Homo sapiens: one gene and its partners. The protein of the gene in region 2 interacts with the protein of the main gene of each other region in a pairwise test. Each region holds a gene or a part of one and is shown on either strand. Other genes may lie near its edges.

Evidence for each region. The genes of interacting proteins can lie anywhere in the genome.
Region 1: the proteins of KLHL2 (region 2) and NACC1 interact in a two-hybrid assay, tested with the Homo sapiens proteins (one study listed by BioGRID).
Region 3: the proteins of KLHL2 (region 2) and PIBF1 interact in a two-hybrid assay, tested with the Homo sapiens proteins (one large-scale study listed by BioGRID).
Region 4: the proteins of KLHL2 (region 2) and CWC22 interact in binary tests that used the Homo sapiens proteins (3 or more experiments, as listed by UniProt).

Annotation. Positions count from the first base shown.
Region 1 is NC_000019.10:13,134,372-13,138,455, forward strand, and holds part of NACC1 (nucleus accumbens-associated protein 1), read left to right. Parts: intron 1-828; 5' UTR 829-836; coding exon 837-1,782; intron 1,783-1,860; coding exon 1,861-2,034; intron 2,035-2,899; coding exon 2,900-3,005; intron 3,006-3,106; coding exon 3,107-3,204; intron 3,205-3,775; coding exon 3,776-4,035; 3' UTR 4,036-4,084. UniProt on the Homo sapiens protein: Functions as a transcriptional repressor. Seems to function as a transcriptional corepressor in neuronal cells through recruitment of HDAC3 and HDAC4. Contributes to tumor progression, and tumor cell proliferation and survival.
Region 2 is NC_000004.12:165,297,227-165,302,510, forward strand, and holds part of KLHL2 (kelch-like protein 2), read left to right. Parts: intron 1-382; coding exon 383-499; intron 500-2,280; coding exon 2,281-2,430; intron 2,431-5,284. UniProt on the Homo sapiens protein: Substrate-specific adapter of a BCR (BTB-CUL3-RBX1) E3 ubiquitin ligase complex that mediates the ubiquitination of target proteins, such as NPTXR, WNK1, WNK3 and WNK4, leading most often to their proteasomal degradation.
Region 3 is NC_000013.11:72,787,741-72,792,132, forward strand, and holds part of PIBF1 (progesterone-induced-blocking factor 1), read left to right. Parts: intron 1-4,392.
Region 4 is NC_000002.12:179,997,298-180,001,689, forward strand, and holds part of CWC22 (pre-mRNA-splicing factor CWC22 homolog), read right to left. Parts: intron 2,610-4,392; exon of another isoform or gene 2,434-2,609; intron 1-2,433. UniProt on the Homo sapiens protein: Required for pre-mRNA splicing as component of the spliceosome. As a component of the minor spliceosome, involved in the splicing of U12-type introns in pre-mRNAs. Promotes exon-junction complex (EJC) assembly.

The DNA of each region.
Region 1 (4,084 bases), on a different chromosome or scaffold from region 2:
TTTTTCCTTTTTTTTTTTTGAGACAGTCTTACTCTATGCCCCAGGCTGAAGTGCAGTGCCACAATCTCGGCTCACTGCAACCTCTGTCTCCTGGGTTCAAGTAATTATCTGGCTTCAGCCTCCCTAGTAGCTGGGACTACATACCCACACCACCTTACCTGGCTAATTTTTGTATTTTTGGTAGACAGGGTTTTGCCACGTTGGCCAAGCTGGTCTCGAACTCCTGGCCTCAAGTGATCCGCCTGCCTCAGCCTCCCAAAGTGCTGAGATTACATGAGTGAGCCACTGCGCCTGACCTCATGTAATTTCTTGAGTGGTCATTTAGTCATTATACAAACAGTGATTGAAGGGCATGTGCCCAGCACTGCAGACTCTGCTGCACAGTCAGATGACCCTGCCTTTCTGGCATTTCCATGCCAGTACCCTGAAGAGATACCATATATGTACCTGGTGCTTGCAATAGCTGGCACTCAGAGGTAGCACACTGTGTCCTAGCCACTCTTCCGAGCACTTAAGCATATTCAGTTACTCTTCAAGTACATATGAATAAGTATGCCTTTGCCCCCTCCTCTTTGCAAGGGATAGCGTGTGGCCACCCTGGTCTGCAGCTAGCTTAGCAGATTTGACCACATATTGTAAAAGTGAGTCTGTACCAGGACAGATAGGGTAGAGGGCTCTGTGTGGTTTAGCACCATGGTAGATTCCATCGTGCGGATGTCCCTCCAGCAGGGGAGGTCTTTGGGGCCAGGGCTAGGCCAGCACCCACATTTGCCGCCTGACCCCGTCCCTCCGTCTCTGTCTCTCCATTCCTCCCTGCCCCTCGTGCAGCCGCTGCCATGGCCCAGACACTGCAGATGGAGATCCCGAACTTCGGCAACAGCATCCTGGAGTGCCTCAATGAACAGCGGCTGCAGGGCCTGTACTGTGACGTGTCAGTGGTGGTCAAGGGCCATGCCTTCAAGGCCCACCGGGCCGTGCTTGCTGCCAGCAGCTCCTACTTCCGGGACCTGTTCAACAACAGCCGCAGCGCCGTGGTGGAGCTGCCGGCGGCTGTGCAGCCCCAGTCTTTCCAGCAGATCCTCAGCTTCTGCTACACGGGCCGGCTGAGCATGAACGTGGGCGACCAGTTCCTGCTCATGTACACGGCTGGCTTCCTGCAGATCCAGGAGATCATGGAGAAGGGCACCGAGTTCTTCCTCAAGGTGAGCTCCCCGAGCTGCGACTCCCAGGGCCTGCATGCGGAGGAGGCCCCATCGTCGGAGCCCCAGAGCCCCGTGGCGCAGACATCGGGCTGGCCAGCCTGTAGCACCCCGCTGCCCCTCGTGTCGCGGGTGAAGACGGAGCAGCAGGAGTCGGACTCCGTGCAGTGCATGCCCGTGGCCAAGCGGCTGTGGGACAGTGGCCAGAAGGAGGCTGGGGGCGGCGGCAATGGCAGCCGCAAGATGGCCAAGTTCTCCACGCCGGACCTGGCTGCCAACCGGCCTCACCAGCCCCCGCCACCCCAACAGGCTCCGGTGGTGGCAGCAGCCCAGCCCGCCGTGGCTGCGGGAGCAGGGCAGCCAGCCGGTGGGGTGGCAGCAGCAGGGGGTGTGGTGAGTGGGCCCAGCACGTCGGAGCGGACCAGCCCAGGCACCTCAAGCGCCTACACCAGCGACAGCCCTGGCTCCTACCACAATGAGGAGGACGAGGAGGAGGATGGTGGCGAGGAGGGCATGGATGAGCAGTACCGGCAGATCTGCAACATGTACACCATGTACAGCATGATGAACGTCGGCCAGACAGGTGAGGTGCCGTCCTGTCCCCCATCCCACCAGCCACCCCTGCTCCTCCTGCCACTCGCGTGCCACTCTCTCCCTGCAGCCGAGAAGGTGGAGGCCCTCCCGGAGCAGGTAGCCCCCGAGTCCCGAAATCGCATCCGGGTTCGGCAAGACCTGGCGTCTCTCCCGGCTGAACTTATCAACCAGATTGGGAACCGCTGCCACCCCAAGCTCTACGACGAGGGCGACCCCTCTGAGAAGCTGGAGCTGGTGACAGGTGGGCCGGTCTCGCCCCAGATCTCTCCCCTCCGCAGCTTTGGAGCCGGCTGGCCTGGGCTGGGCTGGGCAGCTGGTTAGGAGCCCCCAGCACCTCAGTTTCCCTATCTGTGCTGTAGTGTTGGTAACAGCCACCCTAAGGGTGGGGGCGTTGGTGAGATGGAGGAGCTGATACAGCAAGGCCTGGCCTCTAGGTTTCTGGCTTAAGGGGTCGGGGCGAGCATTGGCTATTATTGTTTGGCCGCATGGGTAGATTAGCTACTTCCCGGGCTCCTGTGAAGGCCAGCTACTACCTAGGTTAGGAATTTGGACAGTCACAGGGGCGAATGCCTGTAGTCCTAGCTACTCAGGAGGCTGAGGTGGGAGGATCCCTTGAGCCCAGGAGGTCAAGGCTGCAGTGAGCTGTGGTGGCCACTGCACTCCAGCCTGGGTGACAGAGTGAGACTTCATCTCTTAAAAAAAGAAGAAGAAGACTGTGTTTGGTCCTTGGGTCAGAGTGCCTAGGTGTGAGCCTCCACTCCCTGTTGGTCCTGCTGAGCTTGGGCTCATCTCTAGCTGGTGACAGCCAGCGTGCCCACCTCACACAGGCTTGCGGCACGACTGGCCACACAGCAGGCACCCCGAGGATGGTGAAGCAACCCTTTCTGTCCTTTCCTGAGCACTGATGAGGTTGGGGGAGCCCCAAGGAGCCTCCCCTGACTGCCCTTGGTGGGTAGAGATGTAGGGGAGAAGGTCCCTGGGTGAGTTTTCTTGGGACCCAGAGCCCAGCAGGGAGGGCCTGGGGTGTTCTGAGATGAGGCCTGGTATCATGGGGGCTGTGGCGGTTTGGGGGCACCCCAGGCCATCCTCCGGCTTCCTCTCACCAGGCACCAACGTGTACATCACAAGGGCGCAGCTGATGAACTGCCACGTCAGCGCAGGCACGCGGCACAAGGTCCTACTGCGGCGGCTCCTGGCCTCCTTCTTTGACCGGTAAGGCCCTTGCCAGAGCCCCAGGGAGGGGGGTGGGGTTTCCCCATGTCCCCCCCACCACCAACTTGAGCGCTGACTCCCTCCATGTCCCCTGCCCCCAGGAACACGCTGGCCAACAGCTGCGGCACCGGCATCCGCTCTTCTACCAACGATCCCCGTCGGAAGCCCCTGGACAGCCGCGTGCTCCACGCTGTCAAGTGTGAGTGTTGGCCCAGCTGGACGAGGCGTGGGCCCGGGGCACGCAGGTTGACGTTTTTTCCCAGCCTTGGCTCTCAGAGAGGGCTAGAGTTCAGTGTTGAGAAGCATTCTGGGGCTCATTCTAGCCTTGCTGGGAAACCGGCTGTGATTGCTTAGAGATTTCTTCGTGTTTGGGGGATGCACGTGCCGAAGGGAAGCCAGGGAGCCTGTGTCAGGCAGGAGGGTCTCGAACTCAGGGCAGTCTGGGAGGGATGAGGCAGCCAGACAGTGCTAGCCACTCGTCATGGGGGGCATCTAGATTTTCAAGTGACCACTCCCCGTTACTAAATTCTGGCAAATGATCCGAATTTTTCAAGAACACGGGGCCATCCCATCAAAACCAACACATCCCCACACATGGCTGAACTCAGTCCGGTGTAGGGTTGGGTGCACGTAGTGTGGTGTCCTGGCCGCGTGGCCTCACTCGTTTCCCCTTTGAGAGGGAGTCGCAGATGCTGTAGGGGAGCTGGTGAGTAGGCCTTGTGGGAGTCACCTGGCCCCCGTGCCAAGGCCGCACCCACCCTGCCCCACAGACTACTGCCAGAACTTCGCCCCCAACTTCAAGGAGAGCGAGATGAATGCCATCGCGGCCGACATGTGCACCAACGCCCGCCGCGTCGTGCGCAAGAGCTGGATGCCCAAGGTCAAGGTGCTCAAGGCTGAGGATGACGCCTACACCACCTTCATCAGTGAAACGGGCAAGATCGAGCCGGACATGATGGGTGTGGAGCATGGCTTCGAGACCGCCAGCCACGAGGGCGAGGCGGGTCCCTCGGCTGAAGCCCTGCAGTAACCCGCCCAGCCTCCCGCGGGGCCACACACTTCCCCTCCCAACACACACA
Region 2 (5,284 bases):
ACTACATTTTAATATATTCTGCTATTACAGAGCTGAGTCGATCTATTGTACAAACCTTCGATTTATGTGTATGGTCTAACATTTGTTTGTAAACCTGAAGAAAAAGCCAAACATGAATTGTTTATAAGGATACATGATTTTCATTCCAGAATATCACTTTGCTTTATTATTTTGGGTAAATAAAAAAAAAAAGAACAGAAAAGAAATGGGGTGAATGGCTTTGTAAGTACATTGCAAGTCAGGATTTTGAAAACACTTGAGCTGTGAATTAAACTTGGATGTCTTAGCAAGAGTTATATATAAAATGTAGTCTCATATTTTATCCAGATGCCTTGATACACAACTCATTTCTTATTTTTTCTTCTCCTATATTTTCTGCAAGGTATTTGAAGCAGTAATAGCATGGGTGAACCATGACAAGGATGTGAGGCAAGAGTTTATGGCCCGACTGATGGAACATGTACGGTTACCTTTGCTTCCTCGGGAATATTTAGTTCAGGTAAATGCATATGCAAAACATATGAATCCACACAGCACTGTGTCACTGGCCTGACAGCATGTAGATCCCTATCAAGCAGTGATAAGAGCTGTAGAATGCAGATCTGTGGAGTACAGGACAGAAGACAGTAAAGGACCCCGCAGGCTGGAGTGCAGTGGCGTCATCTCGGCTCTCCGCAACCTCCACCTCCCGGGCTCAAGTGATTCTTGTACCTCTGCCTACTGAGTAGCTGGGACTACAGGTGCATGCTACAACCCCAGCTAATTTTTGTATTTTCAGTAGAGTTGGGGTTTTGCCCTGTTGGCCAGGCTGGTCTCGAACTCCTGACCTCAAGTGATCTACCCGCCTCGGCCTCCCAAACTACTGGGATTACAGGCCTTGTGAGGCACCACACCCAGCCACCATTCCCCGTTCTTAGAAATTTGCTTTTGCCCCTATTTTTGATTTGGGTAAGCAAGTACTAGAGCTTATCAAGGTAGTATTTGTGGTCACTTAAATACATGTAAATAAATGTCCCTGTGGCAGTCACTGCTTTGCATCTTCTTTACTGTTTTTTTCTTTCCATAGTCTCTTCTGATTCCCCTGCAGACCTGGAATTTTGAGGTCTGACCCAAATACCGTTTAATTTTACTTCGTAATTTAATAGTGGCATGCATTTGATTTCTGTCTTTATTTCTAAGCTGAGGGAAAACATTATTTGAAATAAATGTGAAAAATGATTCTTTAGTGGTCTCCAAATAATTTTAAATTTACTGTTTTTTTTATTAGAATCCCGCTAGGAACATTTCAGCATTATTTTAATAATTGAAACCATTGAAAGAATCATTTATTAAGAAATTAGATTTGAACATTTTAGGATTTCTTGAAATCTCATTACTTTTTGTGATCTGTGTAATCATGGGTCTTCTGGTATTAAGAAGATGATCCAAAAGGGTGGGTGCGGTCAGTGGCTCACGTCTATAATCCCAGCACTTAGGGAGGCGGAGGCAGGCATGAGGCCAGGAGTTCGAGACCAGCCTGGCTAACGTGGTGAATCCCCGTCTCTACTAAAAATACAAAAAATTAGCCAGACATGGTGGCAGGTGCCTGTAGTCCCAGCTACTCAAGAAGGTGAGGGAGGAGAATTGCTGGAACCCGGCAGGTGGAGTTTGCCAGGATTGTACCACTGAACTCCAGCCCGGGCAACAGAGTGAGACTCTGTTCCCTTCCCCCCGCCCCCCCTCCCCCCCCAGAAAAAAGAAAACGAACCCAGAAGCCTGTCCTGCGTTTGAGGTCAGGCTAGGCAGTACAAGATTTATTTGTGTTATGGGTACGTTGCTTTAAGGTATTTCTAATCTCTTTTTGGGATATTTTACTTGCCCACTTGTGTTTGAAAAAGGTATCATTAACTTATTAGTATTGTCTTCACCTGAAGGATGTATTATCTAAACTTTGTTTCTTGTTTTGCTTACTTTTTGTCTTAAAGGTTAAAGATACACAGGTGGATATAATATCCGAAGAGTTCATCATATTCCATAGCTAACATTGAAGTTTATCATTTTTCACTGTGGTTCTTCTTTTTATTACCTATATATGTTTTTCTCTGCAGGCCAGATACTTGAGCATTTTTTGGTTATATTTATTTTTCTCTTAGATGTATTTATAAACTTTCCTCGTTTATTTTTAGACTAAACTAAAGGATATAGTTACTGCTTTTTTCCTCTCCTTTACTTCTTTTTCTTTGGCAATTTAATTATGAAATAGCCCTACCCTCAGTGGGTGTGTCTGATTTCTTGTTACAGAGGGTTGAAGAGGAAGCATTGGTCAAGAATAGCAGTGCTTGCAAAGATTACCTCATTGAAGCAATGAAGTACCATTTGCTGCCAACAGAGCAGCGTATATTAATGAAGAGTGTCCGGACCCGGCTGAGGACACCCATGAACCTTCCCAAAGTAGGATCTGTTTCTCATGCTTGTTATTACCTCATGCAAAAGGCTTATAAGTGAAGCTGTTAGTATTTTGCTCATTTGAATTTCCGTGATTTATTGTTTTAGTTTTCCTTCAAGAGAAAATGTGCCTAAGAATGCATTGTAGTGTATGTAATTCAACCTCTATTGATTTTATATGTTAAGGGTGGGGATTCTTTGGTCCGTTTAATTTTTATAAACTGCATGATGTCACTCTTCTGGAACAGAAGACAACTGGTTTTTGTCCCCTCTGAGTTTTATTAGCTCTAATTATAGTAGAAAGCTCTAATTATAGTCCAAAAAAATCAGACCAGGTAGAAGGATTTCTCTGTAGGCCTGGGGTGCTGTGATTCATGCCTGTAATCCCAGCACTTTGTGAGACTGAGGCCAGTGGATCACCTGAGGTCAGGAGTTTGAGACCAGCCTGGCCATCTACGTGAAACCGTGTCTCTACTAAAAATACAAAAATTAGCCACGTGTGGTGGCAGGTGCCTGTAATCTCTGCTACTCAGGAGGCTGAGGCAGAGAATCACCTGAACCCAGGAGGCGGAGGTTGCAGTGAGCTGAGTGGAGTGCCCACTGCACTCCAGTCTGGGCAACAATGTGACAGGCTCTGTCTCAAAAAAAGAAAAAAAAAAAAAAAGAATTATTTTGTAAGCTAGGTGTTTGTTTAATAACTGAAAACCCAGTAGTTTCACAGAATTACACATTAGAACTACAGATGATAAAAATAGCTTGTTCAGTTCATCTCATTGCTGTTCCCTGCTGTATACCATTTGATGGTTCCCTGCACATCATATGTAGCCATTTCAGCATACATTCCCATGTCTTCCCGTGTGTCTCGTGTTCATATTTTCCTATGTGAATGTTTATATTCTACCTTGGTCTTTTTAGCTGTGGCCATTCATATTTTACCAATTCAATTTTTCTTATGAAATAACCCCTCATTTCTGTCTCTGTTGGCAATTCCTTCTGCTCTGTTTACATCTTTATAGTACGACCAATACTTTAAGCACCATTTTGTGCGTGGTCTAATCAGAATGACTCATAATATAAAGACTTTATTTATGTATTTATTTTTAACTCTTGTATATGTTTCGGGCAATGCTGGATTAAGAAATAAGAATCTGTTCTCTCGTTTTCTTATATCATCTTCAGTTATTACTCTGTCCTTTCCATTGAATTGTTTTTTAAATTCTTTCACTTTAATACTTTAATATTTTTCTAAGTTTTACTTTGGAGTCTACATTTTTAATTGCTGCAAATCTATATTGGTATTGTTTTTCTGTTTTGCCTATTACTAACAACAGTTCTCAATTTATAACTAACTGCAGATTTGCCAGGATGCTGTTGACTTATTTTTCTAGATCGTTAGCAAATATTTTAATTTAGAATTGATCTCAAAACTCTCTTGGTGGCACCTTGTTAGAAGTAGCCAGCCACTGACACAGTCTATTTGTGGAAAGTTTCATTCTATATGATTATTATCTAAGCCAAAATAAGTAGTTTGGCATATAACATCTGATGAGGTTGAGGATCAAATGGATTCAAATTTGGCATGACTTTTTAAACATTCTTCTGCATGGTATTTTATTGGCCCCTAGAAGTTCAAATGCTTTTCTCAAAATCTTCTAAATTTTTACTCAGAATTATCATCACTTAACAAAGTGTATTTACAAGGTATTCACTTCCTATCCTGGTTTGAAAATTTGGTATTTGCTTTCTTTAAATTTTCTGATCTATCCTCAGTTCTCTGAGATTTTTCAGAAATAATTGTAAGTGGCTCAGTAAGTACATTAGCTAGTTCCCTTAATACCTCAGTATTCATGCCAGGTCTGCTGATTTTATATGTGTTTACATTTTTCAAATACCCTTACACCTGCTTTTATAAGTACCCATCTTTTAAGTCTTCATTAATTCATATTTGTCCATCTTATTTGGTGTCAGTTTTTGTTCTTACAAAATAATCCATTTATAAAAATTGTTCAGTCTTGGCAGTGAGTTTAAGGTTGCCATTTATTTTATTTTATTATTTTATGTAAGTCTTTCCAACTTCCTTCTAAATAATGTGCTATATCTTTAATACTTTTTAAATACTTCATATTTGTAAAAAAGAATTTCTTCTTGTATATTCCTTCCTCTAGCATCTTCAGACTTTCCTATATTTAGCTATGCTGCAGAGACCTTTAGAGTGAAAGTGAATTCATTTTTGATTTCTGGAATAAACATGTCATTTTTGAAACCTAGAGTTCTCGGTAAAAGCCTATCAAGTACTTACTTTCTCTTTTGTGGTGTTGTGTTTACATTGTTCCTGGACTTCTCTGGTTGTGGTTTTGGAGTAGGACTCCTATAGCTGTGTTATACTTTTAGATTTCTCAGTTCTCTAGCTGTTATTTTGTGCTGGGTATGTGGGTCCCTGGAGGTTCTCTTTCATTCTGCTCTATCAGGGTGGTGGGTGGGGCAGCAGACTTGCTGGATAGCAGTGAGCAGCCCTGTTGCTTTGACTTTGCATGTTTACTTGTATGATCCCTTCTCAGTGTGTTTGTTTATCCACACATATTTTCGAAAAGGTGCTGGTGATGAACAATTTTCCAACACCACCATTTGTCATTTTAGAGTTGTTATGTTCAGATTAAGTCTAAGGAGTTGGGTAAGAATGAAGCAAAGATTAATTTCTTATGCTTATTATTTCATAGTAATGATGCCTTTTATCATCGTAATAATGAGTCAAATTGAACAAAATGTGGTAGTCGTGCTGAAGAAATTACAAGGTTTTGATAATATTTTACCATGAGAGTGAATTAGTACTTTTTATATTACACTCTGATTTTTAATTTGC
Region 3 (4,392 bases), on a different chromosome or scaffold from region 2:
CTTCACTTCCTGTGTTCAAGCGATTCTTGTGCCTCAGCCTCCCGAGTAGCTGGGACTGTAGGCCCGTGCCACAACGCCCAGCTAAGTTTTGTATTTTTGGTAGAGATGGGGGTTTCACTATGTTGGCCAGGCTGGTCTCGAACTCCTGGCCTCAAGCAATCCACCCATTTCAGCCTCCCAAAGTGCAGGTGTGAAGCCACTGCACCCAGCCATGCCATACACTTTTTAGCCTGGGCAGGAAACTTAAAGCCTAGGTCTTGAAAGAAAGGTATTTTTAATTGGTCATTCATTCTCCAAAGCTTATTGAGCATCGTATGCTAACGTTATGAAAAATAAATTTTCCTCACTAGACTATAGCTCCATGATAATGGTTGGAAGTCACAGGAAAGGTAGATTTCTGCTCAGTGTAAGCCTGTTATTGCTATTAACATTGAAATGGCCTGATCTTAAGTTTCTGAGCTTCCTGTCATTGGAAGCATTTAAGTAGTCCTGAATAGTCAACTGTTAATAAATATTATAGGTATTTCTATTTTGGAAAGAGATTGAACCAACTGCCCAGGGTTTCAAGGATTAAGTTCAGCAGTTAATACCAGAGACTTGAAAAATGGTGGTTTCTGGTAACAGAGACCTGGAAACCATGGCTTAAGCAAGAGAAGGATTTTGTTTCTTTGGTATAACAAAAATCCAAAAATAGGTATTTTAGTAGACCTCAAGTGATTACTCCTTGATCGCATTAGGAACCCAGGCTCCTTTTAACCTTAGCTATTTTCAACATATGCTTTTCACCTGAAATCATAAGATAGCTTATCTGCCTCCAGTATTGTGTACATGTAAAAGGTGGTAATAAGGAGAAGGATAGTGGAAAAGGGGGCATGTGCCAAATGAGTCAGTCCTCTTTAAAGAGTTCTTCCAGAAGTTCAAGCCAGTGGCCTCAATTGACTAACATTGTATAGCATGACCACCCCTACCTACAAGGGATGGGAAGCTAACTGGACATGTTGTTACTAATAAAAACCAGAGTATGTCAGAAAGAAGGGAAGGTTTGATGTTGGGAGGCAAGTAAGTTTTTTCTTCTACCCATCAAAATCTTTTTTTAGTTAGAAAATATTTGAATCTAACATGTCCCACTCCATTGTGGCACCAATACAAATGGTTATGGATACATGGCTTTATTATAGTTTGTTACTAGGAATAGTCTTGGCCGTATTGATTTGAATTCTCCATGTCTAAAAACAGGAACAAGCAGGTCCAAGAACACTTTAAAAGCACTTCCCACTCAGCTGCTTGTTAACTGAAAGAATGTAGAAAAGCTACTCAGAAGAGTAGCTATTCAGGCCAAACTTCCTGATAGTAGAGCATTGTTAGCTTTACACTTTTATTTCCATCTATTGCTGCCTAGATTCCCTTCCTTACTGTACTTCTTTATTCCTTTCCTCTTCTCTGTTCTTGCCTTTCAAATTTTTAGACAGGGTCTCACTCTCTTGCCCAGGCTGGAGTGCAGTGGCTTGATCACAGCTCTCTGCAGCCTCAAATTACTGGGCTCAAGCAATCCTCTCATCTCAGCCTCTTGAGCAGCTGAGACTACAGGCGTGTACCACCACACCCAGCTAATTTTTTTAATTTTTTTGTAGAAACAGGGTCTCACTATGTTGTCCAGGCTAGTCTCAAACTCCTGGCTTCAAGCAATCCTCCCACCTTGGCCCCCCAAAGTGCTGGGTTTACAGCCTGAGCCACAGAATTGAGCTCTTTAAAATTTTTAAATGCCCCAAACTCTTTTTATTTATCTCTCATTAGAGATCTGTGGGTTCCTTATTACCTGGGAAATGAATACATTTCCCAGCTTGTCCTTGAGTTAAGAGACTCAATTTAGAAGTTAATTGAAATTATAAACATTGAAACCCTGAAAAAAATGTTTTTTTTTTCCTCGTGATACAGGTTGTTTCTTATCTAAAATGCTTGGGACCAGAAATATTTCAGATTTTTGATTTTTTTTTTAATTTGGGAATATTTGTGTTAGACCAGTTGAGCATCCCAGATCTGAAAGTCTGAAATCCAAAAGGGTCAACTGAGCATTTCCTTTGAGTGTCATAGTGACTCTCAAAAAGTTTCAGACTTCAGAGCATTTTGAATTTCAGATTTTAGGGTTTGGGATGCTCAACATGTAACAGTATTCTTGATTTGGGAAACAGTAATTATAAGGAATGTGTTTATTTTACATTTTATATTGATTTATTTATTGAGATGTTGCTGGATATATGCCAATGGATATGACAGAGGTCCCCCTTCTTATGGCCAAGACAGAAAATATTTTATGCTTTGTAGGCCACCTATGCTCTATCAGATTTTTCTTATGGGCTGGATTTAGCCCATCACCATTTTTTAATTCTTGCTTTAGACTATGTAGTCAGAAAAGCTATTGGCAAAGTTTAGCAGTTAAGAGTTACATGTCCTGATTTCTGTATTCAAAATGGCACTAAAATAATAGACTAAGGGCAGACAAGACAGAAACAGAAGAGTTACATTCCTAAGTTTTTGGCTTATTTAACTGGGGCCATTTATAAGAATGGAAGGCTGGGAGAAAACTGATCTGGGAGGTAAAATATATTAATAAGTTCAGTTTTGAAGGTGTAACTTATAGATTCCTAAATGTAATTGTCAGTTAGAGTTTAGGAGGAGTCCATCACACACACACACACACACACACACACACACACACACACACACTTATAGATAGATCACACACACCCTTATAGATAGATCACACACACACATAGATAGATAGATAGATAGATAGATAGATAGATAGATAGATAGATAGATAGATAAATCAGCATATAGGTGGCACCTAAAGCCATGGGATTGTATGGTATTTCCTAGGGAGAACAGAGGGCTATAAAGTAAGTCAAAGGGGTAGTCCAGCTGAGGAGCCTAGAAAGCTTAAGAGTATTTAGTGAGTTAAGAAAACTAGAGAAGAGTATCATGGAAGCTAAAAGAGAATGAAGTGGTTAGCTGTATCAAGTCATGCTGTCAAATAAGATAAATAGGCAGAAAAAAACAATGCACAGGACATTATGGACTTTAACAAGAATAGTTTCACTGGAATAGTATGGGGCAAAAACTATATTGAAGTTTTGCTCTGAAGACCAACAGAGAAATGGTGCTATAGCAAAGAGAATGATGTGATCAAGGGACCATTTGCTTGATGATAGAATGATTCAGTAGAGAAGAGGGACTTGACGATGCAAGAGGAGGGATTTACTTGCATATGTTATGGATTGGCTGTGAAATTCATGTATTTTTGTTTGTTTGTTTGTTTGTTTGTTTGTTTGTTTTAGATGGAGTCTCACTCTGTCGCCCAGGCTGGAGTGCAGTGGCATGATCTCAGCTCACTGCAACCTCCGCCTCCCGGGTTCACGCGATTCTCCTGCCTCAGCCTCCCGAGTAGCTGGGACTACAGGCACATGCCACCACACCCGGCTAATTTTTTGTATTTTTAGTAGAGACAGAGTTTTACTATGTTAGCCAGTATGGTCTCCATCTCCTGACCTTGTGATACACCCGCCTCATCCTCCCAAAGTGCTGGGATTACAGGTGTGAATCACCACGCCCTGCCTGAAATTCATGTATTTTAAGGGGCAAACAGGAATCGTCTTGGTTAAAGCAAAGGGAATAAAGAATTTTCTAAATAGACTAAGAGCAAAATCCAAGTGCTTGAGAAAGCACAGCATACTTGGGGGATGGCAAGCACTTAATATTGGCTGAAATGGAGTTTCCTTTTAAGCTAATGACAAAAGTAGTTGGCTAGATCAAGAAATACCACTGTATTATGCCACAGTGTTTAGAATTTATTCTGAGGACAGTGAGGATCCTCTGAAGAATGTAAAACTAGGAAAATAATTTTTTTTTTTTTGAGACGGAGTCTCGCTCTGTCTCCCAGGCTGGAGTACAGTGGTGCAATCTTGGCTTACTGCAGCCTCCGCCTTCCAGGTTCAAGTGATTCTCCTGCCTCAGCCTCCTGAGTAGCTGTGACTACAGGCGCCCGCCACCATGCCTGGCTAATTTTTGTATTTTTTAGTAAAGATGGAGTTTCACCATGCTGGCCAGGCTTATCTTGAACTCCCGACCTCAAGTTGTCTGCCCGCCTCGGCCTCCCAAAGTGCTGGGATTACAGGCGTGAGCCACCGCACCCAGCTGAAAATAAATTTTTGATAGCATTTTTTAAAGGTAAGATAGAGGAATATAAATTTGGAGGTTGGCAAAACTGGAGGCAGGAGGCCAGGCGCGGTGGCTCATGCCTGTAATCCCAGCATTTTGGGAGGGCAAGGTGGACTGATCACTTGAGGTCAGGAGTTCAAGAACACCCTGACCAACATGGTGAAACCCTGTCTCTAC
Region 4 (4,392 bases), on a different chromosome or scaffold from region 2:
TATACTGTTCCTTAGAGTAATGACTAAAAAAAAAAAGTACAAAATGTAGCTTAAAAGGCTACAAATTAAAATAGAATTTTAAAAAATATTTAAAACAGAGGCTACCCCCTCCCTCACCTGAGGATGAGAGCCCTGTAGGGATAACCCTTATCTCAGCTGGATTTTAGGACCATTTGCCTCAACAAGATGACTCTGTTGAAACCAAATTGCATGACTCCTTCCAAAGCTCCTGTTTTAATGGCTATAAAGGTATAGAGAGCCATAAAACTCAAAACTTTACTCGACTTACTTTTGCTCAAAGATATTGGTATTTTTTTCCCTACCTCTACTAGCACAACCATTTAACATTTCTAACATATCCTTTATTACCTTTAAACCCAGTGTTATTTATACGTACATTTGTTCCCCAACAAATAATACAGCACTTCTGTTATTTGCCCAGCATCTTTCTAGGCACTGGATAGGCAGCAATGAACTACCGTAACAAAATCTGTTCATGTGAAGCTTACATTCTAGGTATAAGAAACAAATCTATAATGATAAACAAAACACTAAGCCACTCAAGCAAGGTGACAGGTTGGACTTTTTTCCTACAGGTCAGTTTTAAATCACTACTTAACAGTGTAAAACTAGTTTGATGTCACTATATTAAACACAACTTGAATCAAGAAAAAATGCATGACAGGAGAATTACTTGTACATATATTGGGGCCCACCTCTGACTTACAAAATCAGAAAATGGGCAGAAAGTGTAGGGGAAACCCATGCATACTTGTTTTATGAAAGTATTCCCAAGGTAACTCCAAAATCCAACTTTTCCCCAAGTCTCCTCAGCTTTTCAATTTTACATAAGAAACTTTGGTTCTCAATTTGTTCTCAAACCATGAGCCACTTAGGCAGAATATAGAGACCCCACAGCCTACCTACTTTATAGTGAAGAACTTAGTTGTAAATCAATTGGAAAGGGAAACAGAAAATCCAAATGTATTAATTCTTAATAATTCATAGGTAAGAAGTGTTTTTTAAACTTGAGAAATTATGGCCACAATTTATAATCACTTATACAATCTTCCTCAATCCTCATAATTACCCTGTTCTGGTGATTTTTTTTTTAGCCATGTTTTTCAGTGAAACAACTGAAGTACAGAGAATTCAAGCAATTTGTCCACGTAAATTACACCTAGTAAATGGCAGAAGCTAAACTTCAAAGCCAGGTTTATCTGATGCCAAAGCCATATATTTTGTCCCAATGAAAATGCCAACACTAACGAATTGAAGCCAAAATGGTAAATTATAAAATGTAAACAAGTACAGACTCTACTATACAGAAAATTATCCTAGCCTAAACTGATCCATTCGTTCAAAGTTCCAGATAGCAAAGACTGTGATTTAATATAATGAAGCACTACTTCTTTTCAAACATTCATAGTAATTTTAAGGATTCCTTTTTATTTAATTTAGCATACCTAGAATTCACTGTGACTAGGTATACTATGAGCAAAAAATAAAAATAAAAAATCACTTGACCCCATTGCACAAGATTTAGCGTTTTCCTTTGCTACTCTCCTGGAGTCTTACACCCGGTTCCTCTTCCCAACCTACTTACACATTTCAGAACAAGCAATTTCTGTGCATTTTATTTCTATTTAAATTTACATATTTCAATTTACATATTTCAATTTAGTGAGTTTTCTTCTGATCGATATCATCTTTCCCCTTTCAACTTTCATCAGCAAATAATTTCTGGCAATAAAGTACAATCTGTTACATTTCCATGTCTCACAACGTAAGTGTGAAAATGACAATATGGTAAAGTAGACTGCTATCATAGTTCTAACAAAAAATGAATAAAGTATTGTCATTGTCCAGATTTATGCAGAATATGCCTGTTCGGAAATTCTGAGTTCAACATATGCATGCTAATACTTACACTAATCGGAAATTCCTGAAATGAGAGCAATTTATCTAGAGTTTATAGCACTCTCTGCTCTTCTAAGCATCACTATGTGAATTTTATGGTGAATTATTAAATTTCTTTCCCCTTCTCACAAGAAAGCAACTCAACAAAACCACACCTGTTCTCCCGAAGAAAGGATATTTTCCAATAGGAGATATAGTATTCACGAGAGCACTATTAAAAAAAAGATAGTTTTTCTCTCAGTTTCATCAAGCATTAGAAAGCAAAATATTTAATAACATATATAAGTACGTCAGACTGTTAAGCAGAAAACTGTGAATTCTGCAATCATCTCAAAAATTAAGAAAATGAGAAAATATTCAACTAATGGCTGAAATGCACTGCTTTCCAGATGATTTCCGTAGCAAAACACTTCTACCATTGTCACTTCGGTGTTCTCAGTCCAAGTTAGAGGAACTTGCTGAAACATATTGTCATAAAATTGCTAAAGGAAAGGGGAATCAATAGTGAGTTACCTTTAGTTGGCTCCTCTGGCTTCTAAATAGTAAAAACAGGTTTGGTGAATTTCAAACATTTTAACAGAGTTCATATTTAAAACAAAAACAAAAACCAAAACAAAAACCTTAGTTGCCCAATGGGGAAAGTGGTAATATTATACAATACAAAATAAAAACTGTCTTAAAATTATTCTAAATGCCAAAATATAATGGGAGGGGACATAACGGAACGGAATTCTCAGAAAATACCTCAACAACAGCCAAGCCCCCAAGGAACGGATTTTCCTTTTCAGGGAACAAATAGGAGTAACAGATTGGCTTCGCTCTTGAACAATATAAAACAAGATTGCTATGTACTTTCCATATCTGTACTGAAGGAAAACTTACTTGTTTTAGAAAAACCGTTTCTTGCTATTTTTTCCTGTCTTAATTTACATATTAGTGAAAAAATTGCCTCATGATATACCTCATAAGGCCAAAAAATTATAATTTGATGTCAGCATAGAATCACAATTTCAAGAAAATAAAAGGGTCAAAATACTCCTGTCTCTTTCTAGAAAAGTCACCAGGTACAGGTTGAAAATCCTTTATCTGCAGTTCTAAAATCTGTAAAGCTCTGAAAATACAAAGATTATTCTTAAGCATGTGGCAACTCACTTGAGAGCAAAACTTAGCATATACTGACTTGATACTTAATGTGACTTGATACAGTGCAGAAATATTAATGTGTTTTGACTAGAGGATGTTACTCCAGACCCCAAAAGGGGGGATTACTTAATATGTAGTATAGGCACTGCAGTTTTCTAAAATCTACAAGATACTGAAATCAAAACACTTCTGGCTCCAAAAATTACAAATAAAGAGTTGCAGAGCTGTCCTCCCTTTTGCTTCATAGTCATTGCATATGCCAGGTGTGCTGACTCATAACCATTTGAATGACTAGATTGCCAGGTTCAAGTACAGGGCTAGAAGTTGTGCAGACAGTTCTGGACATTGTTTTCTGTAAGAAGTAAGTAATATAAAAGCATTTGACTGGTCTGCAACTCTGTGTGGAGAGTAGACAGCCCAAATTTTCAGACACTTTAAGACAGTAAGACACAGAGGAGTGAAAAAAAAAAAAGACATTTTAATGAACCCAGTGACACCATTATCTATACTGAAAACCTCACATTATAAATTGGGAGGTAGTATTACCCCCATTCATTTCCTGTATCATGAAGCTAGTCTATTTTAGGCTGTTTAAGTAACCAAATAAAGAGTTAAGTGATCCAATCATTTGGAAATACTATTAATTTTTTTACGCATAGGAAGATTCCCCAATGTGCTTCTTTTCAACAGAATGCAGGATCTATGAGAATAGAAATTTGTCTATTTTTGTTAGTTTCAACATTTCAATAAGCTGTCTCTTGATTTACAGTACAGTATTGATTTCTATTTAAGTTGGTTTTAAAGAAAAATTCTACATGTTGAACTTTTTAATGATTCATTTAAAAATAAATTATGATATTTATGGGGCAAATTCCCTTTATCCTGTCCCCTCTCTAGTTTTACTGTCTCATCCCTACACAGCTATTTTGTGATATGTAAGTTCACACTTGATGCCTCTAATTTTTTTTTCTTTTTTTTTTTTCTTGAGACAGAGTCTGACTGTCACCCAGGCTGGAGCGCAGTGGCATGATCTCAGCTCATCACAGCCTCCACCACCCAGGTTCAAGTGATTCTCATGCCTCAGCCTCCTCCTGAATAGCTGGGATTACAGGTGCGCACCACCATGCCCAGCTAATTTTGTGTATTTTTAGTAGAGATGGGGTTTCGCCATGTTGGCCAGGCTGGTCTCAAACTCCTGACCTCAAGTGATCTGCCCACCTGGGCCTCCCAAAGTGCTGGGATTCCAGGAGTGAGCCACCATGTCCAGCCTGATGTCTCTAATTCTTAACCTCTCCTACCCACTGTAATTCAGCTTTCCCTTCCCACTAC